Linked DNA regions of Homo sapiens: all the other regions are reported to be linked to region 3. The links are microRNA targets in miRTarBase. Many come from high-throughput screens and were not tested one by one. Region 3 holds a microRNA gene; each other region holds the end of a gene's coding sequence.

Region 1 (8,115 bases), not on the chromosome of region 3:
TGTGTGCCACGCACTGGACAGTGAGCCAGACAGTCACAGCCCAGCTGGCAGAGTGCCTGCGATTCCAGTGCCAGGTGCCAGCCCTGGCCAGGGAGGGAGTTGCACGCTGTCAACACGGATTTCCCAGACAGAAGCAAATGAGAGCACGCAGGGCTCAGGACAGAGGAGCTGTGTGCTAAGAGCACAGTCGTAGAGTCCAACACACTTTGGTTCTTTGCCAGCCGGACAACTTTGTCCACTTTATTGAACCTCCCTTGGTCTCAGTGTCTTCAGCCGTAAAGTGGAATAGATAATCCTTCCCAAGCAGGGTTGTGGTAAGAGTGGATGGGGTGATCTATGTGATTGTGTGCTGCTTGTAAGCCCTGAGAACTGAAATCAGCCATTACCGTGCACCAACTAGGAGGTGTGCCGGTTGGTGGTAGCTTTATTCTGTTCTATCACGCAGGGGCCAGTCACAGAGGGAGCAAAGTTTATCATTCATGATGGGCGCTTTTGAGGCGGCAGTGGCAGGTTGATAGGATTAGCACATGGGAGGTATCCAAGTTTGCTAAGTGGTTAATGATTGCGAACATTTATTGAAGACAGATGCTCAATAGGTACCAGGCTCTGTTCTAAACGCTTTACCTGGATAATCTCATTCCATCCTCACAGCAACCCTGGCAGTAGACACTATTATCATCCCCTCTTTACAGATGGAGAAACTGAGGCCCAGAGAGGTTAAGTGAATTGCTCAAAATCCCTGAGCTAGAACCAGGATTCAAACCCAGGCTTTCTGACTCCAGAACGTTTCCCGCTTCACTAACTGGCGATCTCGTTCTTATACTGCCCCTGTTCTCTGTCTCCCTGTCCCCAGCTTTGCCCTGAGTGAAGGTGAAATTATTGCCATCCACTCATATATTCATTCAATATGGATCAGACTTCTTATGTGCCAGCCTTGGTTTCTGAATCATAACAAATGCCCAGTGAATATTTGTGGAATAAACGCATACATTAATGAATGTCCCCACACGTACCACCATCAGCAGCACCTCCTCAGGCCCCCAAACAGACATGGTCCTGGGTAGCGGGCCCTGTGATGGAAAACAAACATGGGCTGAGGAAGCACAAAGAAGGAACATGGACCCTGCCAGGAGAGGGGAGAGCCAGGGAGGGTCTTAGTATGAGCCATGCTTCATCTGAAATTTACATGGTGGATTGGGATTTGTTACAAGGAGAAGCAGGACAGACACCCTCGAGGGATGAACATGAGAAATGGGTGAAGACTGCAGGTGGTTCAGGCTAGGAGGAGGCAGGAACGGGAGGAGGTGACACTGAGGCGGGGCTGTGAGGAGACTGCACTGTGCGGGTCAGAAAGACCCTTCAGGCAGGGTGAGGAGGAGGGCAGATGGGAAGGGGCAAGGCTGGAGGCAAGTAACGTTGGCAAGAGATGAGGGGAACATGACTTATGGCTGAGCCAGTGTGGGCCGAGAGGACACAGAAGCATCCAGACTTGGTATTCAGTTTGAGTGAGTGGGCCAGGGGCTATAGAATGACCTTCTCATGACTTTCTCTTTGGGTATCTTAAATCCAGGACACAAATGATATCACATATGCAGACCTGAACCTGCCCAAGGGGAAGAAGCCTGCTCCCCAGGCTGCGGAGCCCAACAACCACACGGAGTATGCCAGCATTCAGACCAGCCCGCAGCCCGCGTCGGAGGACACCCTCACCTATGCTGACCTGGACATGGTCCACCTCAACCGGACCCCCAAGCAGCCGGCCCCCAAGCCTGAGCCGTCCTTCTCAGAGTACGCCAGCGTCCAGGTCCCGAGGAAGTGAATGGGACCGTGGTTTGCTCTAGCACCCATCTCTACGCGCTTTCTTGTCCCACAGGGAGCCGCCGTGATGAGCACAGCCAACCCAGTTCCCGGAGGGCTGGGGCGGTGCAGGCTCTGGGACCCAGGGGCCAGGGTGGCTCTTCTCTCCCCACCCCTCCTTGGCTCTCCAGCACTTCCTGGGCAGCCACGGCCCCCTCCCCCCACATTGCCACATACCTGGAGGCTGACGTTGCCAAACCAGCCAGGGAACCAACCTGGGAAGTGGCCAGAACTGCCTGGGGTCCAAGAACTCTTGTGCCTCCGTCCATCACCATGTGGGTTTTGAAGACCCTCGACTGCCTCCCCGATGCTCCGAAGCCTGATCTTCCAGGGTGGGGAGGAGAAAATCCCACCTCCCCTGACCTCCACCACCTCCACCACCACCACCACCACCACCACCACCACTACCACCACCACCCAACTGGGGCTAGAGTGGGGAAGATTTCCCCTTTAGATCAAACTGCCCCTTCCATGGAAAAGCTGGAAAAAAACTCTGGAACCCATATCCAGGCTTGGTGAGGTTGCTGCCAACAGTCCTGGCCTCCCCCATCCCTAGGCTAAAGAGCCATGAGTCCTGGAGGAGGAGAGGACCCCTCCCAAAGGACTGGAGACAAAACCCTCTGCTTCCTTGGGTCCCTCCAAGACTCCCTGGGGCCCAACTGTGTTGCTCCACCCGGACCCATCTCTCCCTTCTAGACCTGAGCTTGCCCCTCCAGCTAGCACTAAGCAACATCTCGCTGTGGACGCCTGTAAATTACTGAGAAATGTGAAACGTGCAATCTTGAAACTGAGGTGTTAGAAAACTTGATCTGTGGTGTTTTGTTTTGTTTTTTTTCTTAAAACAACAGCAACGTGATCTTGGCTGTCTGTCATGTGTTGAAGTCCATGGTTGGGTCTTGTGAAGTCTGAGGTTTAACAGTTTGTTGTCCTGGAGGGATTTTCTTACAGCGAAGACTTGAGTTCCTCCAAGTCCCAGAACCCCAAGAATGGGCAAGAAGGATCAGGTCAGCCACTCCCTGGAGACACAGCCTTCTGGCTGGGACTGACTTGGCCATGTTCTCAGCTGAGCCACGCGGCTGGTAGTGCAGCCTTCTGTGACCCCGCTGTGGTAAGTCCAGCCTGCCCAGGGCTGCTGAGGGCTGCCTCTTGACAGTGCAGTCTTATCGAGACCCAATGCCTCAGTCTGCTCATCCGTAAAGTGGGGATAGTGAAGATGACACCCCTCCCCACCACCTCTCATAAGCACTTTAGGAACACACAGAGGGTAGGGATAGTGGCCCTGGCCGTCTATCCTACCCCTTTAGTGACCGCCCCCATCCCGGCTTTCTGAGCTGATCCTTGAAGAAGAAATCTTCCATTTCTGCTCTCAAACCCTACTGGGATCAAACTGGAATAAATTGAAGACAGCCAGGGGGATGGTGCAGCTGTGAAGCTCGGGCTGATTCCCCCTCTGTCCCAGAAGGTTGGCCAGAGGGTGTGACCCAGTTACCCTTTAACCCCCACCCTTCCAGTCGGGTGTGAGGGCCTGACCGGGCCCAGGGCAAGCAGATGTCGCAAGCCCTATTTATTCAGTCTTCACTATAACTCTTAGAGTTGAGACGCTAATGTTCATGACTCCTGGCCTTGGGATGCCCAAGGGATTTCTGGCTCAGGCTGTAAAAGTAGCTGAGCCATCCTGCCCATTCCTGGAGGTCCTACAGGTGAAACTGCAGGAGCTCAGCATAGACCCAGCTCTCTGGGGGATGGTCACCTGGTGATTTCAATGATGGCATCCAGGAATTAGCTGAGCCAACAGACCATGTGGACAGCTTTGGCCAGAGCTCCCGTGTGGCATCTGGGAGCCACAGTGACCCAGCCACCTGGCTCAGGCTAGTTCCAAATTCCAAAAGATTGGCTTGTAAACCTTCGTCTCCCTCTCTTTTACCCAGAGACAGCACATACGTGTGCACACGCATGCACACACACATTCAGTATTTTAAAAGAATGTTTTCTTGGTGCCATTTTCATTTTATTTTATTTTTTAATTCTTGGAGGGGGAAATAAGGGAATAAGGCCAAGGAAGATGTATAGCTTTAGCTTTAGCCTGGCAACCTGGAGAATCCACATACCTTGTGTATTGAACCCCAGGAAAAGGAAGAGGTCGAACCAACCCTGCGGAAGGAGCATGGTTTCAGGAGTTTATTTTAAGACTGCTGGGAAGGAAACAGGCCCCATTTTGTATATAGTTGCAACTTAAACTTTTTGGCTTGCAAAATATTTTTGTAATAAAGATTTCTGGGTAATAATGAGTCCTTCCGGTGTTCAGTATTCTTGTCTTTGTGAGTGCGTCCCGGGGCCGCCTCGGGGCCTGCCTGCCCTCCTGCCAAAGCCTGGAAGAGGATTGAATGGACCCCAGGGTTTGGAAACAACCTACAGCATTTGAGCCCCTCACGTAGGTTTTAGAGACGTACAATTTTTGTTTGCCCTGGCTCAGAAGGAGCCGGTGTAAGGTTGAGATAAAATTCCATATAGACAACTGAGTTTGGATCTCGGCTCTGCTGCTTTGTAGCTGTGGGAGTTCAAACAGCACCTCTTTGAGACTTGGGCCCCGCGTCGGCACAATGGGGCAGGAATAGTCCCTGCCAGGGTGACTGTGTGGATTCAAGGAGGTTGGAAGCACTGAGCCCACGCTTGGCACTGGGTAGGCCATCACTGAGGCTTGTGTCTTTCCTTCCTGCCCTGACCCTGCATAGCTGAGTCTCGTGGCCTCTCACCACTGATGGGATCTCGGACACCCGGCTCACCCTCCTCCTGGGGCCTCACTTTCCTTCCCCACCAAATGCAGACATCTAATGCTTGTCCTGTAATATCCTTGCCAGATGACTGATGTCAAGTGCTGGTTTATAGTGGGTGCTCAATAAATGTTAGTTTCCTTTCTATCCCTCCATTAGATCATTAATGATATTAGTGCTAATTATGTAATAAAGTTAAGGCATAAATATGTTAATATTTAGTGGTTACTATGTGTCAACGCTTTACCTTGATGAATTCTTAAACCTTGTGACTCAAGGGCAATTATGTTACTGACTGTAGATGACACAGAGAGAGGGTGCAACTTACACAGGTTCACACAGCTAATGAGTGATGTTACTGAGCCTCCAGTTCCAACTGGATAACTGTAGTGCCTGATGCTTAGCCACTGGGTTAATAATCAATACGTCATGTATGGACCACTGACTGCAAAATTAACCACCATGATAGCTAATAACAGCTATGCCAAGTGTGCTGCCGCGTGCTTCACAGTTAGAACTCATTTCCTTCTCCCAGCTACATGAGGGAGGAACTCTTGTTCTCTGTGCTTTGCAGATAAGGAAACTGAGACACGGAGAAGTCATTTCTCCAATGTCCCATGGCAGAGCAGTTTGAAGCCAGGGAATCTGACTCTTCTCCCCCACACTGTACTTACTGCCTCATTTAATTCTCATGACTATCAGATCGCTGTGGTTGTGCCCATTTTGCAAAGAAGGAAAGATGAGGTTCTGGAAGTGCATGTGACATGACCAATCTCACGCAGAGTCTTTAGTCAAGTTGAGACTTGAACTCAGATCCACAAGCCCACTGGGGATCATCCCTACACCCTTGGCCTGGTCCATGTGATCAGAGACCACCTGAACCAAGGAGCCTTCTGCGGGGCTCAGAGAGGTCACCCTCCTCTCAGGCCAGGACCTTGGCTGTAACAGACAGCTCAGCAGTTTCCTGGCCCGTGGCCTGAGTTCAGCTCTCCGCCTCCCTCCGGGAGCAACCCATGAAATATGTGCACTGCTTGCAGGAATGGGGTGTTCAAGGCATGAATCCAGGCCGAGTGGGTGGGGAAATGCCTTCCATTCTCTGGGAAGGTGGGGGATGATGGACTGCGTGTCCAGACAAGGAGACTTGGTGGGTGTATTTCATGCAGCACCTGGGCCTTGCTTCTCCACGGCCAAATCTCCAGGGCTGGAGGCTGGCAGGCGAAATGAAAGTTGATGGGAGCTAAGTGGCCCTTTTCCAGCCCTCCAGGAAATCAGTCAAGCATTTGGCATTTATCGGACACCTCCTTGGGGTTCCTCCTGGTGCAAAGGAGAATGCTAAGACTCCCTTCCTCCATGAGGACCAGGCCAGAGTCCTCTGCCTTCCACCTGAAGCCCCTGCCCATTTTACGTGATAATCAGGAAAATCTCCACTGGCCCCCAACCCCAAGATTTGAATGCCCAACTGTAAAAGCCCATGTGTCTTCTAGCACATTTCCAACAGCCAAGTTTTGACGAAGGTTTATTTAATTTTGGCATAAACACATACTACATATTAGACACTCTCCTAAACTCTGGACAAGTATTTATTAAAATTAATTCACTTTATTCTCTTAACAAACCTATGAGTTAGGTACTATGATTATCCCCCACTTAATAAAGAAATGGAAACACAGAGAGATTAAGCATTTTGCTCCAAGGTCGCCATCCGGGAAGTGACGCCACTGTGGGTATGGTCTAGTCCAGCACTGAATGGGCATATGATGGGGGCTGGGGCTGATAGTGAGAAAGTGGGGGGCATAGATAATGTTCAGGATACACTGGACACTGTCAGTAGCCAGAAACACCACATCTCACCACCAAAGTGTCAGAACATCAGGGTGATATGGCTGCCTGGCTGCTCACCAGCCAGCCGAGGCACCCTTGAGCCTGCCACTGCTGGGATCCCCGACACCACCCCGCTTCACCACCCTCTTCACTGTGCCTGACCAGGCTCTTGGTTTCTTTTCTGAATACAAGATTATGACATTGAAGATGCTTTTTAAGAAGACGTGCTCCTGATGTTCAAAAACAGGCAAAACCTTGGCAACAGAGATCAGAAGAGTGGCTGCCCTTGGAGGGAGGACCAGGAGAAGCCTGGGGTGGCACATGCTCTACGTCTTCCTGAGTCGTGGTTATCTGGGAGGTTGCATATGTAAAAACCTTTCCAGCTGCACATTTAAGATGGGTGCATTTCCCTGTATATAAGTTATGCCTTGAATTTTTTAAAAGATAGATGCCCAGCCCTGTCCCCCTCAACCTTTGATGCCTGCCCCTCCCCACCCCCGGCCAATCTATTTTTTAAAGTTAGTGTCAACACCTTATCTTCGGTAGCTGAACCCAGCCCAGGGCCTGGCCCCAGTGAGGGGCCCAAGGAGTGTCGCTGAGTTCATTGGAAAGATGAACATCCCCGTGATCAAAACAGCACAGAAAACAGTGAAAGATGCTAAACAGCACAAAGATTAAGGATGGCTACAAGCATAAGCCATTATCTGTTATCACTTCATCTCCTGAGATTCCTTCCATCACTTTTCCTCCTCCTCCACCCATTGGAATCGGATACAACTGCACCCCAGAGTCCTTGCCCTGTGACCTTGGGCAAAGAGATTCACCACTGGGCCTCTGCTTTGTCACCTGTGAAACAGGGATAGTAGCAGCCTTCACCTCCGGGGGTTCTTGCGAGAGTTCGATGAGAAAGTAGATTTAAGACTCTTTGCAGCAGTGTGGTGCAGACAGCAGTCGACATATGCACAGAAACACACACACATTCACACCCACACACTCACATATCAGGCCAGGTTATTAGAGCATCGCTGCAATGGTGGGTCTTCTGACGAATAATTTTATCAAGTCCCTCTCTTTCTCATTAGCCTGAGATAGGTCTCTCTTACCAACCTTTCGGGTATGGGGTGCAACACCCCAGCTTGGTTTTCGGAGTCCTCTGCCTTATACCACCACCTGACCTGTTTAAGAACATTTCCTGCTCCTCCCCAGCCCCTGCTGGACTCCTTGGCCAGGTTGATTTTCCTCTCCCAAGAAATACTATATAGCAACTCCTTTGACTTCCCTAGCCCCACCATGAGTCATTCCTCCAGTGACTTGGTGTCCTCTTGACCAGACATGAGCTCCCAAACCAGAACTTCACGCTCTACCTTTGGGATTCAGCCCCTAGGATAAGGGAGACTAAAGCCTACCATGTGCCACGCTGGACTCTGGACACTCGAATTCTTTACTTCATGGAACCTTCACATTCTTTACAAATGGAATGTCAATTTCACAGGGAAGAAAATTGAGGCTCAGAGAGGTGGAGAGGTAATAAGTTCAAGATCTTTCAACTAGTAATTATTTCTCAAGCTCCTACTGGAACCTGGCCCTGTGCAAAGTTCTGAGGACACAATGTGGACAAAAAATGGACCACACCCATATGAGCTCATATATGAGGGAACCAGAGCCA
Region 2 (8,115 bases), not on the chromosome of region 3:
TGCAGTTTTCCATTTTAAGTACTTACACAAGCTCCCTAGCTCTGGGGAAAGAAGTAAGGGAAATTAACCACTTATTGAGACCTGAGTCTGTGCCAGTCTCCATTATATTTTCTTCCTCAAATATACCTCACTGACTCATGGGTCCTGTGGTCCTGGACCTGTGCAGGTAACATGGCAGGGTATTGTCTCAGATTATGAAGTGAAAAGGGTAGAAGGTGTTGAATCTTTTCTCTCTTTCTCCTTACCCTTCTTAATCTTCCCTCTCCCACTCCCCATCACCCGCCTTCCCACCACTTAATTTCTCTTGTTTGTTCACCCTAAGATATATATTTCTGGGACTCTTGGTTTAGGGATGCTCTTAAGAAGTCCCACACTAGGGAGATGCAAACATGTCCTACCTCCAGTGAGTTCCATGATCAGCTTGCTGGATTTCCTCTTCTTATTAGGGGCCGGGGTTCCTGAGAGCGGCATTGTGGAGGTGGATTCAGCCTGGACAGGGTGGGAAGGAGGAGTTGGTGGATGGACAGGGACTGGGAAGAGTGAGTGTCTGTAGGAGAGCAGCACTTCTTAACCTGGGTTTAAGGGCTTGAGGGGACAAAAAAATTTTTTTTTCTTTTTTAGAGACAGGATCTCACTCTGTCGCCCAGGCTGGAGTGCAATGGCACAATCATGCCTCACTGCAGCCTCAACCTCCCTGGGCTCAGGTGATCCTCCAACTTCAGCCTCCCAAGTAGCTGGGACTATAGGTGCGCACCACCGTGCCTGGCTAATTTTTGTATTTTTTGTAGAAATGTGGTTTTGCCATGTTGCCCAGGCTGGTCTCAAACTCCTGGGCTCAAGCAGTCCTCCTGCCTCCCAAAGTGCTGAGATTACAGGGGTGAGCCACTTCACCTGACCCAGATTTTCAAAGAAGCATGTATTTCCCCAAAAGGTGAAAACTTGCGCTTTAGGGCTTCTCTTTTCTTGGGATACAGGACAGGAAGTATAGATGCACACCAGCCCCTGTTGTCTACCAACCTGTTGTGAGCTGTTTTTCATAGAGTCAGTGCAGGAATTAGGAACATAGCTAGGTGTGGGGAGTGTTTAAAAAACAATAACACAAGCAGGGCAATGCACCCAGGTTTCATTGGCTTGGCATGATTTGAAGTTTTTATTTGCACTGGGATATCAGACTGGGGCTGTGATTCCAGGCTCTGGTCTCTCCTCAGTCTTCCCCCAGTCCCCAGGAGGACAGAGAAATATTCTGCCAGGGTTGAGGAGATTCAGCCAAAAACACTCTCCATAGGAAGGAGAGGTTGTTGCTCCTTCATCAGGCCAGCTGGAACATGGCCTGGGAAGTCATGGCCCTGCTCCTGCAATCACTCCCGCCACAGACCCCAGAGTGGAGGCAGGTGTGGAACTGGGAAGGGTAGGGAGCATTCAAATCCCGACACGTCAATTCAGCAATATCATAGCAGTGGGGAATTGAGGTGGGGCAGAAACATAGTAATAGGATCTGGCAATGGAAAGGGACAAACTGGGATAAGATGGACTCCAATCCCTTCTTAAGAGAAGTTGGCACTCAGTGAAATGCTGTCCTCTTCTAAGTCCTGTCTCAAAAAATACATCTGCAACTCTACTGACTTAGTGGGGTCTCCCTTCCCATTCTTCCAGTGCCTCCCCCGACATCTCCATTCCCCCCAACCTCCTGGGCCCCTCTCCTTCCAACTCTCCTTCCCCTCTCCTTCCAACTGGACAGCTGGGAGCTGAGCATAGATGAGGAGAGGGGAGACTCCCCCAGGATCAAGAATCACAATTGTAGACACAGACACAGAAGTCAACACAGTGGGCTCCAGCCTTTCTAACGATAGAGCTGGAGACTTACCGGCTGCTCGGGCAGTGGTCAGCTCTCCCTGGGGTCCAGCAGCTTTGGAGGACTGAGCTGCTGTGACCGGAGAACACGAGCTGGGCAGGCGTGGGGGCAGCACTGGCAGTGGGGGAGGGAAGTTGGTTATTAATAGAGATGATGAGCGCAAGCAGCTCAAATGGCACAGGGGGTACTGAGACCCTGGAACCAAGATCCCTCCCTCCTTGCCCGGAGGCTCAGGAAGGAGGGAAAAGGCCTTTGGGATTCTCCCACTGAACTGTCTGAGCCAGGGATCAGTCTGCCCAGGGACTCCCCTTCACATTGCACCTAGAGCCTGAGATCCAAAGAAGCACTTAGGGAGAAACTGAAGACTGAGAGGGAGACAGGAAGTAGACAGCAAGTATTGGATAGGAATTCAGTCAGAGAGAGAGAGTCTGGGGAACATGCCCTGAGGGCCACACAGAGCCAATCCAGGGCAGAGTGGAGAGACCTGTGGGTGTATTTGGAGCAGGGAGGGCTTAAAGTGCTATATTTGGGGACAAAAAGGGAAGTCTTCACAGTGGAACTGCTCTTTTAAAGTTCCTGGATAGGTTGGTCTTTTCTCGGTAAGGGCTAGATCTTGGCAGGTTAAGGGACCAAATTAACTAAACCCAGTACCTCCTACAAAGGAATGATGTGGGGAAGACTTGACAATTATTCTGTCTGCCTCACTCCCTATTCTTTCCTCTTGAGCTCTGGCAGTTTTAATAAAAGACAAACACTTGGATCTGCATTTTTTTTTTTTTTTTTTTGAGATGGAGTTTCGCTCTTTTTGCCCAGGCTGGAGTGCAGTGGTGCGATCTCGGCTCACTGCAACCTCCACCTCCTGGGTTCAAGCAATTCTCCTGCCTCAGCCTACTGAGTAGCTGGGATTACAGGTGTCCACCACCATGCCCGGCTAATTGTTGTATTTTTAGTAGAGACGGGGTTTCACCACGTTGGCCAGGCTGGTCTCAAACTCCTGACCTCAGGTGATCCACCCACATTGGCCTCGCAAAATGTTGGAATTACAGGCGTGAGCCACCGCCAGGATCTGGTCTCTAAGGAGTTATTCTCTAGCCACCACGCCCAGCCAGGATCTGCCTTTTAACCTCCATTTGCTGTTGAGATGCTCAGTTCAACCTGCTGTGCGGGATAGACATCGATGTCTCCCTGAGAAGCACATATAGGCTCTCTGAGGTTTCTTTTCTTCTTCTTTTTTTTTTTTTTTTTTGAGACGGAGTCTCGCTCTGTTGCCCAGGCTGGAGTGCAGTGGCGCAATCTCGGCTCACTGCAAGCTCCACCTCCCAGGTTCACGCCATTCTCCTGCCTCAGCCTCCCGAGTAGCTGGGACTACAGGCGCCCACCAACACGCCCGGCTAAATTTTTTTTTGTATTTTTAGTAGAGATGGGGTTTCACCGTGTTAGCCAGGATAGTCTCGATCTCCTGACCTCGTGATCCATCCATCTCAGCCTCCCGAAGTGCTGGGATTACAGGCTCTCTGAGGTTTCTACTTGAGATTTCCTGCAAAGGGAGCACATACCACATAGGATCTGGACTGTGCCATTTGTACTGTTCCAGCGGAGTCTCTGGGCAGGGCCACAGGCTTGAAAGCCCCTTTGGGGAAAGCCTATCATTTCCCCAGGCCCTTCTTCAGTAGCTGCATGATCTTCCTCCACCTTCTGCTTAGATTCTGGAACCAGTTGCTGCAGCACTTCTGCTGCAGCCACCACAACCCTGTTGCTGCTACCTGAGGAAGTGGCTTTATTTATTTATTTATTTATTTGAGACAGGGTCTCACTCTGTTGCCTGTGCTGAAGTGCAGTGGCACAATTTTGGCTCACTGCAACCTCAGCCTCCCCAGGCTCAGGTAATCCTTCGACCTCAGCCTCCCAGGTAGCTAGGGCTGCTGGTACATGCCACCACGCCCAGCTAATTTTCATATGTTTTGTAGAGACAGGGTTTCACTATGTTTCCCAGGCTGGTCTCAAACACCTGGGCTCAAGCAATCCTCCTGTCTTAGCCTCCCAAAGTGCTAGGATTATAGGCGTGAGCCACTGTGCCTAGCTGGCTTTTTAAAAAATTATTTCTTTCTTTATTTTAGAGATGGGGGTCTCACTATGTTGCCCAGGCTGGACTTGAACACCTGGGCACAAGTGATCCTCCTACCTCAGCCTCTGAGTAGCTGGGACTACAGGCACGCACCAGGAAGTGGCTTTTGTAACTTCCTTTGTCCCCTTCTGAGCTCTTTACTCTTCCTGACCATGTCCTTTTTCCATCCTGTGGAGACCCTAAAAGGTATCCCCTCACAGTTGGCTTCTGCCCAGGCTAGTTATGCCTCCAGACCCCTCATCTTTTGTCCTCCTCCATCCCCTCCCAACCCAAGGAAGCAATTAGAAGATAAAATAGGCCGGGCGTGGTGGCTCATGCCTGTAATCACAGCACTTTGGGAGGCCGAGGTGGGTGGATCACTTGAGGTCAGGAGTTCAAGACCAGCCTGGCCAACATGGTGAAACCCAGTCTCTACTAAAAATACAAAAACTAGTCAGGCATGGCGGTGCGTGCCTGTAATCCCAGCTACTTGGGAGGCTGAGGCAGGAGAATCACTTGAACCCAGGAGGCAGAGGTTGCAGTGAGCTGAGATCGCACCACTGCACTCCAGCCTGAGCCACAGAGGGAGACTCCATCTCAAAAAAAAAGAAGAACTATAAATAGCTAAAGGTGACTTCATCATCACTACCACCCTCACCCTCAAAAACAAAAACAAACTGAAAGTTTGATCTCCTTCAACTGAGTACCCAAAACGACTGAGTGGGTGAAGACAGGCTATTTAACCTATGGTCTCTGAGATCTTTTTTTGGAATTCTAAGACAGTGCACTTGGAAGAGTCTGCGGCCTGGGTCTGATTATTGGCACAAATGTGCCCTCTGCTGGCAGAATCAGAGCAATGGCACTTTCCTTCTCTGAAGTCTAATTCTCACCTACCTCCAACGCCCTCCCTTCTTTAGTAGTCTCAATTCAGCTTTATTCTTCCCTCTCCCATCCCACCTTCCCCTCCAGCCCTCCAGCCATTGCTTTCTCTTCATTTACTTCCCAGAGACTGTTTAATATGGTTGCTTCCTCTAAGGAGCGAGGAAATGTTGATAGCAAAGGGCTCAGAGGGCCTTTCCAACTTCTCTGAGTTCTGTGAACTGAAGCCTTACCTAGAAAGTATGAGGCAAGGGAGGGAAAGGGGAGAACTTGGATGAAGACTGTGGGGAGAGGGAACCAAGAAGAGTGATGGAGGTGGCTAAATCAAAGCAGGACAGAATTTGTATAAAAGAGCAAAAGACCTGGGAACAAAGGGCAAAAGGATGAAAAATGGGAGGGCAGGAAAAGAGACAGATCAGAAATCAGATCAGGGGAATGGGTTAAAGAAGATTAAGGAGAGATCAGGATTTAGGAATAAAACTAGAAGATAACAGCAACAGAAGGTATGGGGCATAAATTTATTCTTGTGCACAAACCAAAGTATTGTGACTCACACCCAACAAGCAAAGGAAATTATCACTTTCCAGATTACACAGCAAACGTAGCTGGTGGTGGTCTTGGTGAGAAGGGAGTCCATACTAAGATTGGAGATCAGGACCTGAAGCTGAAAAGAAGCAATAGCTGGGGTTTTGAGGGATGGGGTGGGACTGAAAGGAGGTTTTGGCTCTGGGTATTTCCCTACTCTTTCCCAGGCAGTCATGGCAAGCTGCAGAAGACACACTGAAGAACAGACTCAAGGAAAATCACACAGACACCAACCGTTCTTTCAACACTCAGCACACACCCTCACACCTCCCTTCCACCATCATTCCCTTCCATTCTAACATTCTTCTCCCTCAAATTTTTTTCCAATCCCCCTCTCACACACGGTTGGTTTCTTGTTACTCAACTTTACCTTCTCCCAATATGGCATTGTCCCTCGCCACACTTCTGTCTGTGGCTCAATCACTTACACTCATTTCTGCCATGCTTCTGATTTTGGCCTCACTTGCCACACTCTGGCTCTCTTCTCCTTTCTCTCAAGCTCATGAGGCAATGAAGCCAATGATTTGTTCATTCTCGGAGGGAATTTTCTTTCTTTTTTTCATTTCCTGGGTACTGGGTTGCTCAGCACTGGCCTCTCAAGTTGCTAACTTTTTGAAATCCTGAGGTATAGAATTCTTTGTTCTATTCCTGGTCTAGCTGGTATAACTCAGCCCATGCAAACTGTCCTGGCCCTTCAGTCTTTTCATGCTCCATAACTTTCACAAGATGCTGTACACCTGCTACAGACATTGGTCTCTAAGGAGTTATTCTCTAGTGAATCTCTTTCTCCCACTCAACTCCATGTGGGGATATCTGACCCTTCTATCAGTACAACGATAAGACTCAGATTGGGTCTTTTGTTTGTTTGTTTGTTTTGAGACAGAGTCTCGCTCCGTCGCCCAGGCTGGAGTGCAGTGGCGCAATCTCAGCTCACTGCAAGCTCCGCCTTCCAGGTTCATGCCATTCTCCTGCCTCAGCCTCCCGAGTAGCTGGGACTACAGGCGCTCGCCACCACGCCCAGCTAATTTTTTGTATTTTTAGTGGAAATGGGGTTTCACCGTGTTAGCCAGGATGGTCTCGATCTCCTGACCTCGTGATCCGCCCGCCTCGGCCTCCCAAAGTGCTGGGATTACCGGCGTGAGCCACCGTGCCCGGCCTCAGATTGGGTCTTTATTTTGACCTCCCCTCTTATTCATGCCTTAGACGGAAGAGCACACACACACACACACACACACACACACACACACACACAGGCCTAGGTATATGCCAGTCAAGCTTGGGAAAGCAGAGTGGGGGGTGGGGGTGGCTTAGTGCAAACAGGGGTCAGTTCAGTCCCTTTGCTGTGTGCCTGGTGGTGAGCTTCTTGCCTGAAGTCCCAGTGGTCACTTCTGCTCTGTTTACTTCTCACTGAACATTAAAATGAGGCCCAGGGAGAAAAGCACAAATGTCAAGGAAGAGAGATCTGTGGAGGAATATGGGTGGAGAAGCCTGGAAATAAAGACAGAGATCCAGGAAAGGAAATGCAGAGACAAAGAGAGGCAAAGATACCAAAGCAGACATACTTGGTTGGAAAGCGGCAGGGAGGTAGAGAGTGAGGAGGAAGGTGGGGGAAGGGGACATCAACTTGGAAACCATCTCTGGCAGGAGGCAATTTAGCTTCCAGATGCGTGACAGGGGATGGGATAGGGTAGGAGAAGCAACTTTAGGAACTGGATGTTCCACCTCTCCTTGGTCCTGGGACCTGTGCCTGTTCACTGGTGCCCTGCCCCAGGCCTCCACACATGAGCTTGCAATCCTGTTCTGGTGGCTGAAAATCGGGGCCTGGCTACCTGGAAACCGCAGGAGCTGGGAGAAGCCCCAAGGCCCCTGGGAGCCTCTGGAGGAGGGGCTGGGCTAGGAACAGGGGCTGAGGCCAGTTCTGTTCTCCAGATGGGCTCATCCAGTGTAGTGGCTGCTCGGGGGGCAAGCACAGTGGGAGCCAGGGGTTCTGCAGTGGGCTGGGGTGCCGGAGTGGAAAACCGGCGAATCTCCTGGACTCGGGCAGTTTTGGGGGACCCTGAGGCGATAGGGCCAGGAGTCGGGGGAACCTCATCAAAACAGAACATGGCAGTTTTAAGTTGATAGGGCTGATGCCGCATAAAATCTAGAGCCTTGATGCCCTGCTTGGGTGTTGCCCGAGGCCCCTGGGATTGGGCCTTAGGGAGAGTTCGGGCCGCCTGGGGGAAAAAGGGAGAGAGCAGTGGGTTGTAAGCAATAGGAGGCGGGGCACGGATGTTGGGTGAATATTTCCAGGAAGGGGGCAGAGACGGGGTAGGAGAAGGACTTCTAGGCCGAGGGCCAAGACCAGGACCAGGTGTACCTTCCACCACATACCTGTCCGCACGGCTCTGCCGCTTAGCAAACAGCTCCCCACCCCTGCCCTGCAGCCTTGGTGGCTCAGGGATTCCAGCCGAAGAGGCTGCCCCATTCACGAGCCCATCAAGGAGCCCTCGAGATGGGGGCTTAGGAGCCACTGGGGGTGGAGTCTTAGGAGTCATAGGGGGCGGGGTCTTGGGAGCCATTGGAGGGGGGGTCTTAGGTGTCACGTGAGGCAGGGTCTTGTAACTCCTGGCCCCTACTGGCTGCATGAAGTTGCAGGCTTCAGCCCCGAGGCTCAGAGCATCTTCTTCAGGACCAGATTCTGCACCCCCGGCCC
Region 3 (8,115 bases):
CTACGACAACTAGTAACACAAAATTAACATATATTTAGTGCTAATTATACACCAGGCACTAACGGCACTTTTACATGTATTATATCACTTGATCCCCGATACAAATCTGACGTATCTGAGTTGTGAGCTGCCAAATGTATAGGCAAATAAACAAATACAGACAACTCCCAGATATAGCTTTTTTGTTTTCTTTTTTAAATCAACTTTCCTGGCTCTCCTCTAGTTTTTTTGTTCGAGTCAGTTATATGCCACCTAGTGATATTATAAAGAAATACAACTTATTTAGTAATATAATACATTTTCCTTTGATGGATACTTTTCCTGTAACACCTTTCCATTCTTTCTCTCCCTTCCCTCCCTTTCTCCCATTTCTTTTTTCACATATGGAAAGTCAGTTAATTATATGGTAGGAATGTAATACTTAACCATTTATGTTTGCTTGCCCCAGGCAACTCTAACATCAGAAGTTTAAGCTACTAATTAACAGATAAAAATCTCAGCTTTATAGTCATAAAGAAAAAGGAAATGAGAAGAAAAGAGGTCAAGGGAAAAATTTAAGTAAATATATTGAATGTCAATCACAGTCAGATATAACACAAAAGAAAAGTACTTTTAATTCAGTGTATTTTTAATCTCACTGAATGTATAATACATAGCATTATATCTTGTGTTACATTTCCTGTCCCTTTAAGAAATCCTAATTATTAAAATTCTTAAGTATAAAAATTTTCTCAAAGGAATAGAAAAACCTTAATTTCTTTTTAAAATGTCATTTGACCAGGCTATTTCAAAAGTTAGCTGCCTTATCTACATCTTCCTTTTTCATGTTTTCAAAAGAGAAAATTTATCTAATTACAGATTGAAAGAAAAAAATGTTATTGTTGTGATGTCCATATAATGTAATGAACCTGCCACGTATATTTCTCTATATGTTCCTTTTTGCCTCTATTTAAAAATGAGTTGATCCTGCTTCGAGCCAGGTCACTTATCACATAAAATAAATGAGGACAAGACTTAAGGCTGTGTATTCAAGGCCTGAAACAAAACTACAGTAGCAGCCTCAGGGTACAAGATCTTGAGTTACTTTCCAAAGGAACAATGTCTTCATTGCATATTACATACAAGTGTTGCATGAGACATCATCTGTGATAGGTTATTTGGGAAAGTGTCTTTGCCACCCAAAATATCCATCTAACATGCTAGCTAGACTCTCAGATTTTTTTCATTTAGAAATTCAGTTTGAAGTGATACAATTAAAAGAGAGTTCACTGTTTAAATGAGCCCAGAAGAAGTAACAGGTAATGCATACATACAAAAAATGAGTGTATATATAAAAAATGAGTGTCTGCCCACCAGCAGCACATCCTTTCCTCAAGGCTCATTTCGTAGCAGGTCCTAGAGTCTGAAATAATATGGGAAGAGGGAGAACATGCCAGAAAAACATATTTGCCTATTTGGTATTTTTCCTCGAATGGCTATAACCTCTTACATACTTAAGAATTTAAGCCTGCAGCAAAGCTTCCAGGCTTCAGGCATGCGCTAGGTGAAGAAAGGACTACAGAAAAAAGCCAGCTTCTGTCTAAAAGCTGAGTGACAGGGGGAAGAATTGGGAGGTGCCAAAGTCATGTGACAGCTCTTTGTGGAGGGCAGGTATGAGGAGAAAGGTAACAGCATCAGACCACATACTATCTGAGGTATGAGTGCTGTTAGCCTCAGATCCTGGCTTTAAATTAATGTAATTAAATTCCTTAGGGCACTGTCCTTAGAATAACAATATATCACAACCTTTGAAAGAAGGAATGCATATAGACCAGGAAGAGAGAAGCAGATCTAAATATCATACTAAAGAAGAAGAAGTATTAACACCAATTTCATGACTGTTCATGTTATTCCATATAAAACCAGTTTCCATACAATTTTTTTAAATCAGGCTCAAGTTGTCTCCATGAAGATGAGCAACAGTTTATGCCAACGATGTAGGTATTTTACAGATGTGTATGAGTTTCAAAAGATGTTCAGCCTCCAAATGGTAAAACATTATGTGCGCTAGTAAAATATGCCACTTTAATCAACAATAGTGAAATGATGAATTTTTTATATATAAATTATATAATAAGGAAATTAAGTTGCTTATCTCGTTTGTGATGTTTCCATAAAATTGAAACTTTTCTAAGTCTATCTCTCTTGCATACACATAAACATCATGCACACATATTTCCTTTTTCATCTTGAATTTCTTCTAAATATGCAGACTTCACAGGCCTGGTCTTGATGCCAAAATGAACCCCTTTCATTTGCTGATTGAGATCTGGCTCAACAGCCAATGTTTCCCGCTGGGTCCTTACAGAGGGTGCATTCACATTTTATCCTAATTTATTCATTATCAAACATCAAACCTTAGGAGGATAAAACAAAAAGCTAGTGAACAATGCAGGGAGAATGTGTTGGTTTGTTTTCATCTTCACTCTCAGATGAAAGAATTCTTCAGTAGCATTGCCTATTCTACCAATACATCATCCAGGTAATTGGGGGGCTTGAGGGGGGAATGACAGGCTGGGCCAAATCAACCTTCTGCATCCACTGGCACACACAATAACCTCCAACATCAAAAGTATCTAATGAGAACTTGAGAATCCAGGGCTTTATATTAGTTGACCCAATCTTGTAATTAAGTATCAAAACTCCCCATGCTTTTTGTGAACATTTACAAGCTGCATGGCAAGATCTCAACATATACAAAACAAAAGACCTTAGTCATACTTTCCTTCTAGGAGGAAAGCTTTAATGACAGCTCTGCACAAACACCAGATTTCTGTATCAAAGACCCCAGTTTCTATGTTGGTTTTGCTGCTTTGAGGTTGAATAATGAATAAGCCACATATTTTCATTTGTTAGAAGAAATATTACCTTCCTTTGGGGTGTTTAAGAAGGTGGATAAAATCGTAACATGAAAGTTGCTTTGTAAAATGTGAAGTATCTTACAAATGTTCAGTCTGTGTATTATTATGACAAATGGTGATACTATTGCTTATACTTATCAGATAAAGCAGCAAAGGCAGTAACATTTTCTATCATAATTGGCCCCACATAGAAACGGTTGCAAACTTGTCATTATTTGACAGTACTGTGGTGATACAGTTTGGCTTTGTGCCCCTACCCAAATCTCATCTCTAATTGTAATCCCCAGGTGTTGAGGGAGGGACGTGGTGGGAGGTGTTTGGATCATGGGTGGGGTGGGGGAGGTCGGCGTCAGTTTCCCCCATGCCCTTCTCATGATAGTAAGTTCTCACAAGGTATGACAAGGTATGACGGTTTTGTAAGGGGCTCTTCCCCCTTTGCTTGGTTCACATGTTCTCTTACCTGCTGGCATGTAAGACGTGCCTGCTTCCCCTTCTGCCATGATTGCAAACTTCCTGAGGCCTCCCTAGCCATGTGGAACTGTGAGTCAAACCTCTTTTCTTTATAAATTACCCAGTCTCAAGCAGTTCTTTATAGCAGTGTGAGAACAGACTAATACACTTGGTAGAGCAAATATGTAGATTTTCTGCCCTACTTAAAATTCCAACATTAGACATTCTCTGGTTTAAGACACTGAATAATGTCAAAGGTACCATGACACTATGAAGAAGAGATAAACAAACGAATGTTGTCATCTCTTCTGATTCACCTTGATAAGAATTAACAGACAACTCTCACAGAGAGGCACTGTTTTTTGCCCATAGTGGTTGTGAATTTACCTTCTCCTCTTTGCAGTGATAAAGGAGGTAAATTCACAACCACTGTGGGCAGAAACCAGGTGAATCTTCAGAACCTTGCTGGATAGAGGTTTGCTGCGTTGTCTCACCAGTGTTGACCCCAGTTTTAGGCAACAACATTGCTGTTCCTGTTCCTGTCTAATCAGCTAACTGCAGACACAGCATTGAGGTTCTTGAAGCTAATCTTGTGTCATATTTTTGGCTTTCTTGACCTTTTGCTTTAATAATGCGTGTTTTACTGCAAAGGCAGCTCAACAATGGCCTGGCCGTCAAATCATTCAGTGGATTCCCCATTCTCCTCTACCACCTACTGGTATCTGGGATTCTTGAACATTGGAACAGGTTTTAAATATCAACTCAAAAAGATTTCTGACTCTACCTCTCTCACTTTCTACTGATCCTCATAGTTTCATAAAGCAGTTTGTTTACTTAATGTGGCTGTTTACAAAAAGGGATAATCTCCTCTGGCCACTTCCTGGCTAAAAAAAAAATCAGGAAGAAATGAGGGTTTTATTAATTTATTTGGGATGTTCAAGATTCTGATCTATTTCTGGATATGATGATTTTCTCTTTCCCCTAACAGCAACCCCAGACCCAGTTGGTTGGTACAATCTCCAGATGGTAGTCTGGCCAAAAGAGTACCTAAGGAATTTAAATTTAATTCTGGTTTGGTTACCTGGCTTCTCATGTTGGACTGACATGCTTCTAGATGATAAGTACAATGACAACTTAGTTGAGACTGCTGCACACCAAGTGGCTACATGTGGCTGATTTGTGACAAAATGGGATAATACGGTTATCTATTTTATAGAAGTGCCTCTGTTTCTCTATACCTGTTCCTTCTGGACAAAAGATCTGTTTGTGGTGATATCTGGAAAATAGGTGAAGTTACAGCAACTAGAATTGGACACTCTGATTTTGTGACAGTAGAGGGATAATAACAACTTTGGAACCTGGAGTTTACTCAAACTCCAGGAGTAAATAGGGAAGTAAGGATATGTAAGACAATACAATAATAATAAGGCAAAAAGATTTATGATAATATCTTGAGCCATGATAATGCATGGGAAATTTTTAAATGCTTATTTCTGTGAGTTAACTCTAAGAACACTCTGGAATGCAGTAGGTAACAATTTTAAAAAGCTAAGAAAATAAAAATTGAGACACTTGGATGACCCTGGGTCATAGCAGTACGTTAGAGCTACTGCTAACCATCGTGGCTTTACATATGGGACAGGTACTCTGCAACATACTTGGAGAAGTCAATTCAAAAATATAGAAAAACAGGGAAGAGATTTCTTACCACACATACAGTTCTTTGCTCTTTTAATTTTGTTGACAAACTCTAAAATATTTAAAGAGGCTTATTCTGAGCCAATATGAGTGATCTCAAGAGGTCCTGAGAAAGTGTGCCTGAGGCAGTTGGATTACAGTTTGATTCTATACATTTTAGGGAGATAGGAGTGATAGGCAAAGATATAAATCAATACATGTAAGATACGCATTGGTTTAGCCCAGAAAAGCAGGACATCTCAAAGTGGGGGCCTACAGGTTATACGTGGATTCAAAGATTTTCTCATCGGCAATTGGTTGACAGTTAAGCTTTGTCTAAAGACTTGAAGTCATAGAAAGAAATGCCTGAGCTAAGATAAGGGGGGTTGTGGAAGCTAAGATCTTTGTTATGTAGATGAAGCCTCTAGGTTGTAGGCTTTAGAGAGAAGAGAGAGCCTTTAGAGATAATAGATGGCAAATGTCTATTTTCACACCTTAAAAGGTATCACACTCTTATTTTTTATTTATTTATTTTTGAGACTGAGTCTTGCACTGTCGCCTGGGCTGGAGTGCAGTGGCGCGATCTTGGCTCACTGCAATCTCCACCTCTCAGGTTCAAGCAATCTCCTGCCTCAGCCTCCCAAGTAGCTGGGATTACAGGTACCTGCCACCACACTTAGCTAATTTTTTGTATTTTTTGTAAAGACAGGGTTTCACCATGTTGGTCAGGCTGGTCTCGAACTCCTGACCTGGTGATTCCCCCACCTCAGTCTCCCAAAGTGCTGAGATAAGCCCCTTTCCCCCGCCGGTATCACACTCTTAATCTCTCCTAGATCCATGACAGGTCTGGCTACATGAATGGTAATTCTGTACAGATAAAAATTTCTCCCAGGGCCATTTCAAAATATGTCAAAGAAATATTTTGGGGTAAAATATTTCAAATTTATTCAGAGTATGCTATTTGTCACATGAAGCTATACCAGCATCAAGCTCGAGTTTGTTCGGTCAGTCGTACGGTTTTTTTGTTGTTGTTTTTTTGAGATGGAGTCTCGCTCTGACACCCAGGCTAGAGTGCAGTGGCGTGATCTCGGCTCATGCAAGCTCCGCCTCCCGGGTTCACGCCATTCTCCTGCCTCAGCCCTCCGAGTAGCTGGGACTACAGGCACCTGCCACCACGCCCGGCTAATTTTTTGAGTTTTTAGTTAAGACGGGGTTTCACCGTGTTATCCAGGATCTCCTGACCTCGTGATCCGCCAGCCTCGGCCTCTCAAAATGCTGGGATTACGGGCATGAGCCACTGCGCCCAGCCGACCTCTGTTTTAATGTTAATGTTGGTCAATTTTGTACTAACTCCAAAGGAATGGGATATAATGAGGCATGTCTGATGTCCCTTCTAGTCATGGGTAGGAATTCAGTTTTTCAGGTTTCTCTGAGGTTCCCTTGGCACAGAGCGAGTCTGTTCAGCCACCTGGGGAGACTTAGGGTTTCATTTTTGGCTTATAATTCTTTTAGCCCTCTGGAATTAGCTTATGTTAAACAGATGTCAGCTTTAAGAGGAAATCAATTTAATATTCATTTAGAGATTAAGTTGATTTTCTTTTTTAATGTGGATAAAAGAAGGTAATGATCCTTTGGCCTTAAAAAGAGGAAGGAGTTCTGGACAATTGAAGAATTCCCTATAGTTGACTAAAAAGTCATAAAAATACATCTTAGTTTTTTTTTCTTCTGTGTTTTAAAAATTTAGAGCAGTATAGATCCTTATATAGACATGTTTGTATTTCTGTGCATTCACACATATATGCATATATGTACGTACACAAATATACCCCCATTTACTTTAAATTATTGACTGAAATAATGATATTTTAATATATTTTATTTTAAACATACTTCAACAACTAGAAATTTCGTACTTTATTTCCATGTTTAAGATTAACCAGAAATTTAATGATATGTATTTTAAATATGTCACACTGGAAAAATATAGCCATGTAATTACTATATAAGACCAGAATGTGCTAAAATAGTGGATTTAAAATTGTTTTTATGTTTAAAAAGCAGTTTGAAAACAACTGTTACAGAGTATAGTGTATAGGATCATTGCTACCTTTTAGGTCTTCATCTTATTTCACGAATTAGCCTGTCCATAATTTTTGTCTGAAAACATTATAGTATGATATCCTTGTATTATCTCTTAATACACGATGTACCACCAGTTCGTTTTACTTGTTTCCTTCCCTCTTCTCTTCCCTCTTTCTTCTAAGAGTTAGCAAAGCTCTTCCTATGCCATTGAGAAATACTTTTTCTTATACAAATCACAAAATATTCCTTATAAAAATGATTCCATAGTTAATGCAGAATGTCAATCCAGGCACTATAAAGACCAAAAGATTAAATAACTTTCAAATATTTATAGAGGAAATGCTTTAAGAATTTTATAGGATTTTACTTCTTTTTCTTGGGACCACAGGTTGATTCTTAACCTATTGCTTTTCAATTAATTTTCTCTACTTTTAGACATTCAACAGGTATAGAACTTTTGGTTCAATGGTTGTAAACAGCTGTAAATATAACAGAAGTGTATAAGCTAGACATCAGTGGCATACGTACAAAAATAAGAAAATAGGAAAGCAAAATTTACTGAGTTGGGAGCATCTAAAAAAAAATCAGTCTCTTTGCTGGAGACTTCCAGGTTTAACATCATTTTATTTCCTGAAAAAATACTTTTAATAAGAATGAGCTTTTAGATAGAATAGCTTCCCATACAGTTCTAAATAAAGTTTTGGATATTTGTGAATATACCGGGTCTTACTTAAAATCATTACAAAAATTCATGCCACAAAATCTGCCCACTGATGGTTAAGTACTTTAGCATGACTCACATTATATCACCACTGTTCCTTTGGGAAGAAATGCTTAAACTTTGGCAAAATATCCAAAGCATTTAAATATTTATAATACGAGGGTCAAGCTGTGCCCCATATCTGATGAAAAACTTCAATGGAGTGTTAAGTTACTACTCAATTTTCAGCTACTCATTCAGATCACGTTTCCGTTACTTTCTGTTACTGTTGAAATTGATGAACGA
Region 4 (8,115 bases), not on the chromosome of region 3:
ACAGAGTGAGACTCTGCCTCAAAAAGAAAAAAAAAAAAATCCTGTGATACTACAGTACATTTGTTCTTTTTCCCATTGGATTGTGAGTTATTTGATAGCAAGGATCATACCTGATTCACCTTTACATCCCCAGGATTTATTTATTTATTTATTTATTCAATTGACAACTATAGCCAGGTGTAGTGGCTCATGCCTGTAATCCCAGCACTTTGGGAGGCTGAGGTGGGAGGATCGTTTGAGACTGGCCTGGGCAACACAGCAAGACCCTGTCTCTACAAAAAATTTTAAGTAGTTGGGCATCATGGTGGCATGCACCCCTGTGGTCCTGGCTACTTGAGAGGCTGAGGCAGGAGGATAGCTTGATCCCAAGAGATCGAGACTACAGTGGACCATGATTGTGCCACTGCACTTCAGCCTGAGTGACAGAGGCAGACCCCTTCTCATTTAAAAAAAAAAAAAAAAAAAGAACAACCAAAAAAACCTATAACTGGGAACCTCCTAATGTAGCAGGCACTGTGCTAGGCACTGGGTATATATTAGATAGTAAGTATTATAATAAATAGAGTTCACAACCCTTGTGGATCTTCACCAATATTGGGTCATATATATTCAATGAATATCATACTCTGGGAAACAAAAAGCTGGTCCTTTCCCTTTTCAACTTTTTGGCCCCTGTAGGAAACCTTCTGGCGAATTCCAGCCAAGCTGAGTCCTACCCAGCTCCGGAGGGCAGCAGCTTCTTTGAGTCAACCAGAGGAGGAACAGAAGCTGCAGCCAGAGCTGCAGCCTAAAGTCCCTGGAGAGCAAGGCTCTGATGAGGAGCACTGTAAAGAGCACCGAGCACAAGCCCTGAGGGCCCTCTTGCTAGCCCACAAGAAGAAAGCGGGCCTGGCATCCCCAGAGGGTAATAGTGCGACAGCCATCTTCTGAGTATTAACGTGTCAGCCATGTTGGTCTAGAGGGCAGGAAAGGTGTTCTGAGAATATGAGGACCGAGTTCCTAATTTTGTGTCATTTATGGTCATTGCAGAGGAAGACGCTGTTGGTAAAGAGCCGCTGAAGGCAGCACCCAAGAAACGACAATTGCTGGACAGCGACGAGGAACAGGAAGAAGATGAGGGCAGGAACAGAGGTAGGGAATTTGATGGGACCTTCTTTTTCTTCTCTAATCCTGAAGACAAACTCTACCACGTCCTTACCCCTTAACATATTTAGATATTCTCTCTCTCTCTCACCCCCATCGTTCCCACAGCACCAGAGTTGGGAGCTCCAGGAATCCAAAAGAAGAAACGATACCAGATTGAGGATGATGAGGATGACTGAAGAGCTAAGAAGCCTAGGGGTAGAGATAGACACGTTTTTAGATGGTGCATTCAAGTCAGAGTTGGAAGGGTCATACAGGACCCAGAAGCTCCTCTTACTGGACAGAGCAGTAGAATCCCAGGCTCTTTCACGGATTTAGGCTGAGAAACTTCAGCAGCAGTATTGGACTTCTCTGCTGTCAGTCTTTGTTTCTCCCAGTTTTTATCGGTATGCCCCAGCAGCTCTCTGGAGATTTAGTTCTCTTCTTCTAGGAACCATTTCTTTTGGTTATTGGAGCTCCTTAGCAAATAAGAGGAGTGAGTGAAATAGAGAAAGCACCCCGGACCCCTTTTATTGGTCTGTTCCTTTGGCTTTCTCTTGGAGGTGGGTCGCAGCACCAGATGGGGAGCTTTATGACATGACAGGCGGGAGTTTTGTACCACTTTTAGAAGATACCAGATGCCTCTGTCCTCATTTTGTTTCCTATGATCATCCTCTAGATACCAGATAGAGGCCCATTCCTGCATTTGAGATAGGGTTGGAATATAGTACTCTAGATGATGAATGTGTTTGCTTTGTGTTTGGTATTAAACATGTAAGATTAGAAGTTCTCATCTCAGTCTGACTTGGCGATATGTCTAAGTTCCCCAGCCCTTCCCCTGCTGTGCTCTTGAAAGAAGAACTTAACAATTTTAGGGTAAAAAGAGACCAACAGACCGGCACAGTGGCTCAAACCTGTTGTCCTAGCACTTTGGGAGGCTGAGGCGGGCGGATCACCTGAGGTCAGGAGTTTGAGACCGGCCTGGACAATATGGCGAAATCCCATCTCCACTAAAAATACAAAAATTAGCCGGCCATGGTGGCATGCGCCTGTAATCCCAGCCACTCGGGTGGCTGAGGCAGGAGAATTGCCTGAACCCAGGAGGCAGAGGTTGCAGTGAGCTAAGGTCACGCCAGTGCATATGCCTGGGCGACAGAGCAAGACTCTGTCTCAAAAAAAAAGAAAAAAAAAAAAGACCAACAACCTTCCCTTTTCTTCCGCTTTCCCTACAGAAGACACAGAAAAGCATTTTTGCCTCTAGATCCTTTTGTCTAGGGTAAATTCTTAGGGTGACAAGAGTATGCGGCAGGAAGAAGGAGGAGCCATAAAGGAAGAGAAGCCAGCTTGTTGGCATGGGGCATAGAAAAGGACAAAATCTAGGCATGAAAAGGATGGATAAATACTGCAAATATTATGTTCTTACCCATTCTTGGAAACGTCAGCTTTCTTGCTTCCTGTGCTTCCAGCCGAGGTAGGGCAAAGGTGAGATTGAGAAAATAGCCATTCAGCTCAGGAAGGCTTCTAAGTAAAGGATGGATTTGGATTGCCCTGTTGCTTTGACTTTTCATTTTTATTTTTTCCTGAAAAGATGAGGATCTCCCATAGCCTCTAAAAGTGGGAGTGAAGCTATTTCCATGGTAATTGAAGTTTCCAAGGGCTAGACACTTTCTAGCTCTGGCCAGTCTTGGTGTCTCTTCATCCTGAGCTTTTCTTCACTTCGCAACCTGAGCACTGCTTCCTTCCAGCAGGGCTGCTCTGTTTTCCCTCCATGATCCGGGCTGTGCTGCTCCTTTGCTGTGTCCTGCTGTCCCCAGTATCTGCCTTTTTTTTTTTTTTTTTTTTTGGAGACGAAGTCTCGCTCTGTCACCCAGGCTGGAGTGTGGCAGCATGATCTCGGCTCGCTGCAGCCTCTGCCTGCCAGGTTCAAGTGATTCTCTTGCCTCGGCTTCCCAAGTAGCTGAAATTACAGGTACGAGCCACCACGCCCCGCAAATTTTTTGTATTTTTAGTAGAGACAGGATTTCACCACGTTGGCCAGGCTGGTCTTGAACTCCTGACCGAAGGTGATCCGCCTGCCTTGGCCTCCCAAAGTGCTGGGATTACAAGCGTGAGCCACCGTGCTCGGCCTAGCAGCTGCCTTTTTTTTTTTTTTTTTTCTTTTTTGTGATGGAATCTCACTCTGTCACCCGGGCTGGAGTGCAGTGGCGCAGTATCAGTTCACTGCAACCTCTGGCTCCTGGGTTCAAACAATTCTCCTGCCTCAGCCTCCTGAGTAGCTGGGATTACAAGCATGCACCACCACACCTGGCTAATTTTTGTATTTTTAGTAAAGATGGGGGTTCATCATGTTGACCAGGCTGGTCTGGAACTCCTGACCTCAAATGATCCTCCCACCTCAGCCTCCCAAAGTGCTTGAGCCACCGCATGAGCCGGTGGCGTGATTACAGGCATGAGCCACCGCATCCGGCCGTGGCTGCCTTTCTAAGAAATGTCCAGAACTGGACCCTGACTTTCCATCCCTCTTTGAAATTTCCAGCTCCAGTTTCTTCTAGCAGTGTTTATCAGTATAGAAAATTTACTATGTATTGGCCGGGCATGGTGGCTCACACCTGTAATCCCAGCACTTTGGGAGGCCGAGATGGGAGAATGACAAGGTCAGGAGATCGAGACACTGGCTAACACGGTGAAACCCCATCTCTACTAAAAATATAAAAAATAGCCAGGCATGGTGGCGGGCACCTGTAGCCCAGCTACTCAGGAGACTGAGGCAGGAGAATGGCGTGAACCCAAGAGGCAGAGGTTGCAGTGAGCTGAGATCGCACCACTGCACTCCAGCCTGGGTGACAGAGCGAGACTCCGTCTCAAAAAAAGAAAAAAAAAAAAGAAAATTTACTATTTATTAGGCACAAGAGGTATTTTTGTCCTTTTCCGTTTATTTACCCTTTGGAAATTTTTAAATGAGAAGAGGAGTAAAAAGCTATTTCTTACATATTTGAATCACAGCCGTCTGATTTCTCCTTATTCTGGGTCTCTTGGATTAAGCTGGGAATGTGGGAGCAAGAGGTAGATACTGCTTTTGCGGCATTTCTGACACCTAAACAAGCTCTGATTAGTCAGTACATATCAATTCAGGTATAGATTGGGAGAACCTATAGATCACGATGACAGTCACACATGTATGAAAGGGAGAAAGAGAAAAATTACAGTGCTACTCAGAAAATCTTGGCCAAGTTGATACAGAGCCCCAGAATGAAGATTACATGACTGAGGAGTCCCATGTCTGGCCGACTTGGCTGGGCTCTAGCACTGTCCACCTGTCATTGTCTCAGAGCAGCCTGTAGAGAGGGATGCTGCTGTGATCACTGCAGAACATTCTAAAGAGTGGAAGCTGTCGGCCAAATAGAATGTTCACTCTGTGTTCTCTTGAAGGGAGATCTGAGCAGAACACCACAGGGCAAATAGGCAAATGTTTGCCAAAATTGTGCCCTTACTGACCTTAGAGACAAGCAACTGTCCCCTCTCATGAGACAGAGAACTGGGACTGGAATAACCTACCTGGGAAAGCCCACCTCTCACTGACTACCCTCTGGTAATTTGGTGCTCTCAAATATTTAAGTAGAAAGTGAAGCAGAGGAAGGCCCTGGTGACCAGGGAATAGGAGAAGTCAAATAAGATCAGTGCGGTACCATTTCCTATGTAACTGGGCTTTAACCTAAAATGAACACAAGCCTGGAGGTAATGGGTGAGTGAAACGGTCTGTTTTCTAACTCCCACTTCAGCTGATCATTTACTGCTACATGTTGCACACACTCTGGCTGCCATTTCATATGGAACCCAAACTAAGGCCCTGATGTCCCTTGCTTCGTATTTGCAGAGCCCTGGTTCTGCCAGACCTGGCTTCCAAAGTTCCTGCCTGGTGTCTTCCATATGTCCTCTCTACCCAGGATCTAGTAGGCCCGGCACTAAGGAAAGCCCTGGAGCAGGCTGACTCCTAAACTTGATGCCAGGCCCTGAAGATTTGGCTATACAGGGTGGGATGTGTGAAAGCCACATAGTCCCATACACACCAGCTCCAAGGATTCTGGAATTTCAGTGGCATAAGGAGGAGCATGCCAGGTGATACCATGGCCTCTGTTCTGCAGGTGTTAAGACGGGCTTCAATCAGACCCAGGAAAAGCCAGATGTGTCTTTCCCACTGAGTACTGTGAGCAGGGGCAGGAATATCCTGAGCACAATGTGTTCCAGTTTTTGCCAGGAGTGGGAACCTACTCCTGGCAGTGGCAGCCCATCTGGAGTGGTCACTGCAAAGACGCCAGCTGCGGCTGGGGAGGTGTGGTGAGGGCTGCATGCTCCACAGAACCAGGGAGAGCCAGGAACAGGCAGGAGCCCCGCCCCCTTTCAAGTTGGCGGGTCCCCACCCTCCTGGGTGCAGCTACAGCAGCACAGCCACAGCTGTGGATCCAGGCATCCCTATGCTCTTAGGGGCCTACGAAGCCTCACTGCCCCCGCAGACTCAGAAGTGCATGCTCCCACTGCCTAGCCTCTTCCCACTCTGTTTTTAGAGCAAAGTTGAGGCCAAGCCCAGCACTGTTGTGACCTGGCCATGTGTGCACACCCTCCTGGCGGTGCTGACACACCAGCCCCCTGCCACCTTGGCCCCCTCTAAACTTTGTACACTGACAAGCATGGGAGAGGGGCTGAGGGGGAGCCAAGGGTGACTTGGCAGGGGTCTGCAAGTGCCCCTCAGCAGGAACAGCTTGGGTCCCGTGGATGACATTATTGATGGTGGCAGAAGGCAGGCTCCTGGGTGGAAAGGTGCAGGTCCAGTGAAGTACCACCTTTAAGCCAGGGACAGCCTGAAGCCTGGGTGCCGGACTGTCACTTCTGGGTGGAGTCCATCGCCCAGAATGAGAACTCATGATGCTTATTCTGGGCCATCCATGGCCCAATCAGCATGCACTTCCTCCCTTCTGAAGCCCATGAAAACCTTGGACTCAGCCACTCACAGAGACATTGAATCGACCTGCATGTGGAAAGGAGCTACTCACTGCCAGTCTCCTGAGGGCTGCTGTGTCGCTCAATGAAGCTCCTCTCTGCCCTGCCCTCCAGTTGTCTGTGTACCTCATTCTTCCTGGATATGGACAAGAACTCAGGACCCAAGGAATGGTGGAACTGAAAGAGCTGTAACACAAACAGGGCTGAAACACGCCTGCCGCCCCCCCCCGCCCGGCCCTGTCACTCCACTGCTTGCCACTATGTGGGCGACTAGAAGAAGAGAAGAGCTGTGGCTCTTTGAGAAGCCCAGACCCAGGGGCTCCCAGAGCCAGGGCTATGACACCCTCTTTGGGGCTCTGTGGTTCCTGGTGTCTCCAAGCTCCCAGGTGCCACCGCATTCCCTGGTGCCTGCAGTGGAAGCTGCTTGCAGTATGTCTGGTCCAGCCACAACCTCACATGGAGCCGGTGCCTGGAGCTCCCTGTCTGCTGCAGCCGGCATGCCTGGCTGTGCACAGTGTGGCCAGACCCCATGCTCACACACCCCTTGCTGCTGCACATCTGGTTCACCCATGGCAGGCATGGAATCCAGGCCAGTAGCACAAGCAGAGCACAGCCTGCCAGGCCAAGTGGGTGGAACAAACACAGTGAGCCCGAGCAACACTTGGGCAAAGGCACCACTGGCCACAGAGGTTTCCAGCTGGAAAAGTGACATCCCAAGAATCCCATGACACTACTATAAACTGGCACAGCTTTGTACTATGCTGCTCAGATAGAACTGGTCAGACAAGGCCAATGGGTCAGAGGTAGTTCTCTCTGCTAGAGGTGAGTCTCGCTGAAGAGCCATAGCTTAGAACCTGGGGCTGGGAGTTTTGTGCTATAAGAAAATTGGATAGGAATAGAAGGGATGAATTCTAATTTTTTGGCAAGCTGTATATGTGGTGTTCAGAATCCAAAATAAACATCACCTGATATCCACAGGATACACAATGATGAAAAATACAATGATTAAAAAACGTGCTGGCCAGATGTGGTGGCTCATGCCAATAATGCCAGTACTTTGAGGGGCTGAGGTGGGAGTATCCCTTTACCCCAGGAGTTTGAGACCAGCCTGGGCAACATAATGGGATCTTGTCTCCACAAAGAATTTCAAACATCAGCCAGACATGTTGGCTGAGGCAGGAGGATCTCTTGAGCCCTGGAGTTTGAGGTTACAGTGAGCTATGATTGTGTCACTGCACTCCAGCCTGAGCAATAGAGCAACACCCTGTCTCTTAACCAAAAAAAAAAAAAAAAAAAAAAAACAATTATTTTAAATGTGTTGAGGTTTCTTCTATGGCCCAGATATGGTATACCTTGGTGAGTGTTCTATAGGTACTTGAGAATGTGCATTCTGCTGTTGGAGTATTCTATAAATGTCAATTAGATGGGTTGATGATATTGTTAAGTTCTTCTATATTCTTGCTGACTTTGTACGTAGTAAGTCTATCAGTTGTTGAAAGAAGCGTGTTAAAGTCACCAACTATAATATTGGATTTATCTATTTTTTTCTTTTAGTTCTGTTATTATTATTTTTAAATAGAGACTGGGTTTCTCTTTGTCACCTAGGCTACAGTGTGGTGATGTGATCATAGCTCACTGCAGCCTCAAACTCCTGGGCTCAAGCTATCCTCCCATCTCAGCCTCCCAAGTAGCAGGACTACAGGCACCCATGCCTGGCTAATTTTTAATTTTTAAATTTTTGTTTATGTTTGTAGAGATGGGATCTCACCATCTTGCTCAGGCTAGTCTTGTACTCCTGGGCTCAAATGATCCTCCTGCCTTAGCCTCCCAAAGTGCTGGTGGTGGCAGAGGCTGCTGCCATCATGCCAACTGTGCAGCTGGGGCTGCAAACTCCATGGAGCCATTGGGAACCCTGTCCCTTCTGAGTTGGGATGGGAGCTCCTGGGGTGCCGCTGCAGCTGCCTAAACTGCAGCTGCAGATCCAGGCCTCCTGCTCTA

The links. Region 3 holds the annotated microRNA hsa-miR-4460 (AUAGUGGUUGUGAAUUUACCUU, at 3,719-3,740, shown strand). A microRNA usually pairs through its seed, bases 2 to 8, with sites in the 3' UTR of a target mRNA and lowers its output. Matches are read on the target gene's strand: a 7mer-m8 pairs with bases 2 to 8, a 7mer-A1 pairs with bases 2 to 7 and ends in A, and an 8mer does both.
Region 1: the mRNA of SIRPA is a reported target of hsa-miR-4460. Seed matches in the 3' UTR shown: 7mer-m8 at 2,258-2,264.
Region 2: the mRNA of SYNPO2L is a reported target of hsa-miR-4460. Seed matches in the 3' UTR shown: 7mer-A1 at 6,458-6,464.
Region 4: the mRNA of TIMELESS is a reported target of hsa-miR-4460. Seed matches in the 3' UTR shown: 7mer-A1 at 2,130-2,136.

What each region holds. Positions count from the first base shown.
Region 1 is chr20:1,935,750-1,943,864 of GRCh38, forward strand. SIRPA (signal regulatory protein alpha) reads left to right here. Exons shown (of 8, transcript NM_001040023.2): 8 at 1,571-4,843. The coding sequence ends at 1,819. Among named protein-coding and RNA genes, the nearest start is that of PDYN-AS1, 7.4 kb to the right of the region's middle. RefSeq lists enhancers at 1,319-1,873, 1,874-2,426, 3,940-4,441, 4,442-4,941.
Region 2 is chr10:73,639,547-73,647,661 of GRCh38, forward strand. It overlaps SYNPO2L (synaptopodin 2 like), which reads right to left. Exons shown (of 4, transcript NM_001114133.3): 4 at 5,340-8,115. The coding sequence ends at 7,172. MYOZ1 (myozenin 1) reads right to left here and starts at 1,928. Exons shown (of 6, transcript NM_021245.4): 1 at 1,865-1,928; 2 at 399-489. The coding sequence starts at 471. RefSeq lists an enhancer at 4,552-4,601.
Region 3 is chr5:129,392,740-129,400,854 of GRCh38, reverse strand. MIR4460 (microRNA 4460) reads left to right here and starts at 3,708; the gene lies at 3,708-3,793. LOC102723654 (a long non-coding RNA gene) reads right to left here. Exons shown (of 8, transcript XR_001742463.2): 8 at 6,927-8,115. RefSeq lists an enhancer at 1,764-2,752.
Region 4 is chr12:56,410,923-56,419,037 of GRCh38, reverse strand. TIMELESS (timeless circadian regulator) reads left to right here. Exons shown (of 29, transcript NM_003920.5): 27 at 679-904; 28 at 1,030-1,131; 29 at 1,252-2,675. The coding sequence ends at 1,322. Among named protein-coding and RNA genes, the nearest start is that of TIMELESS, 34 kb to the left of the region's middle.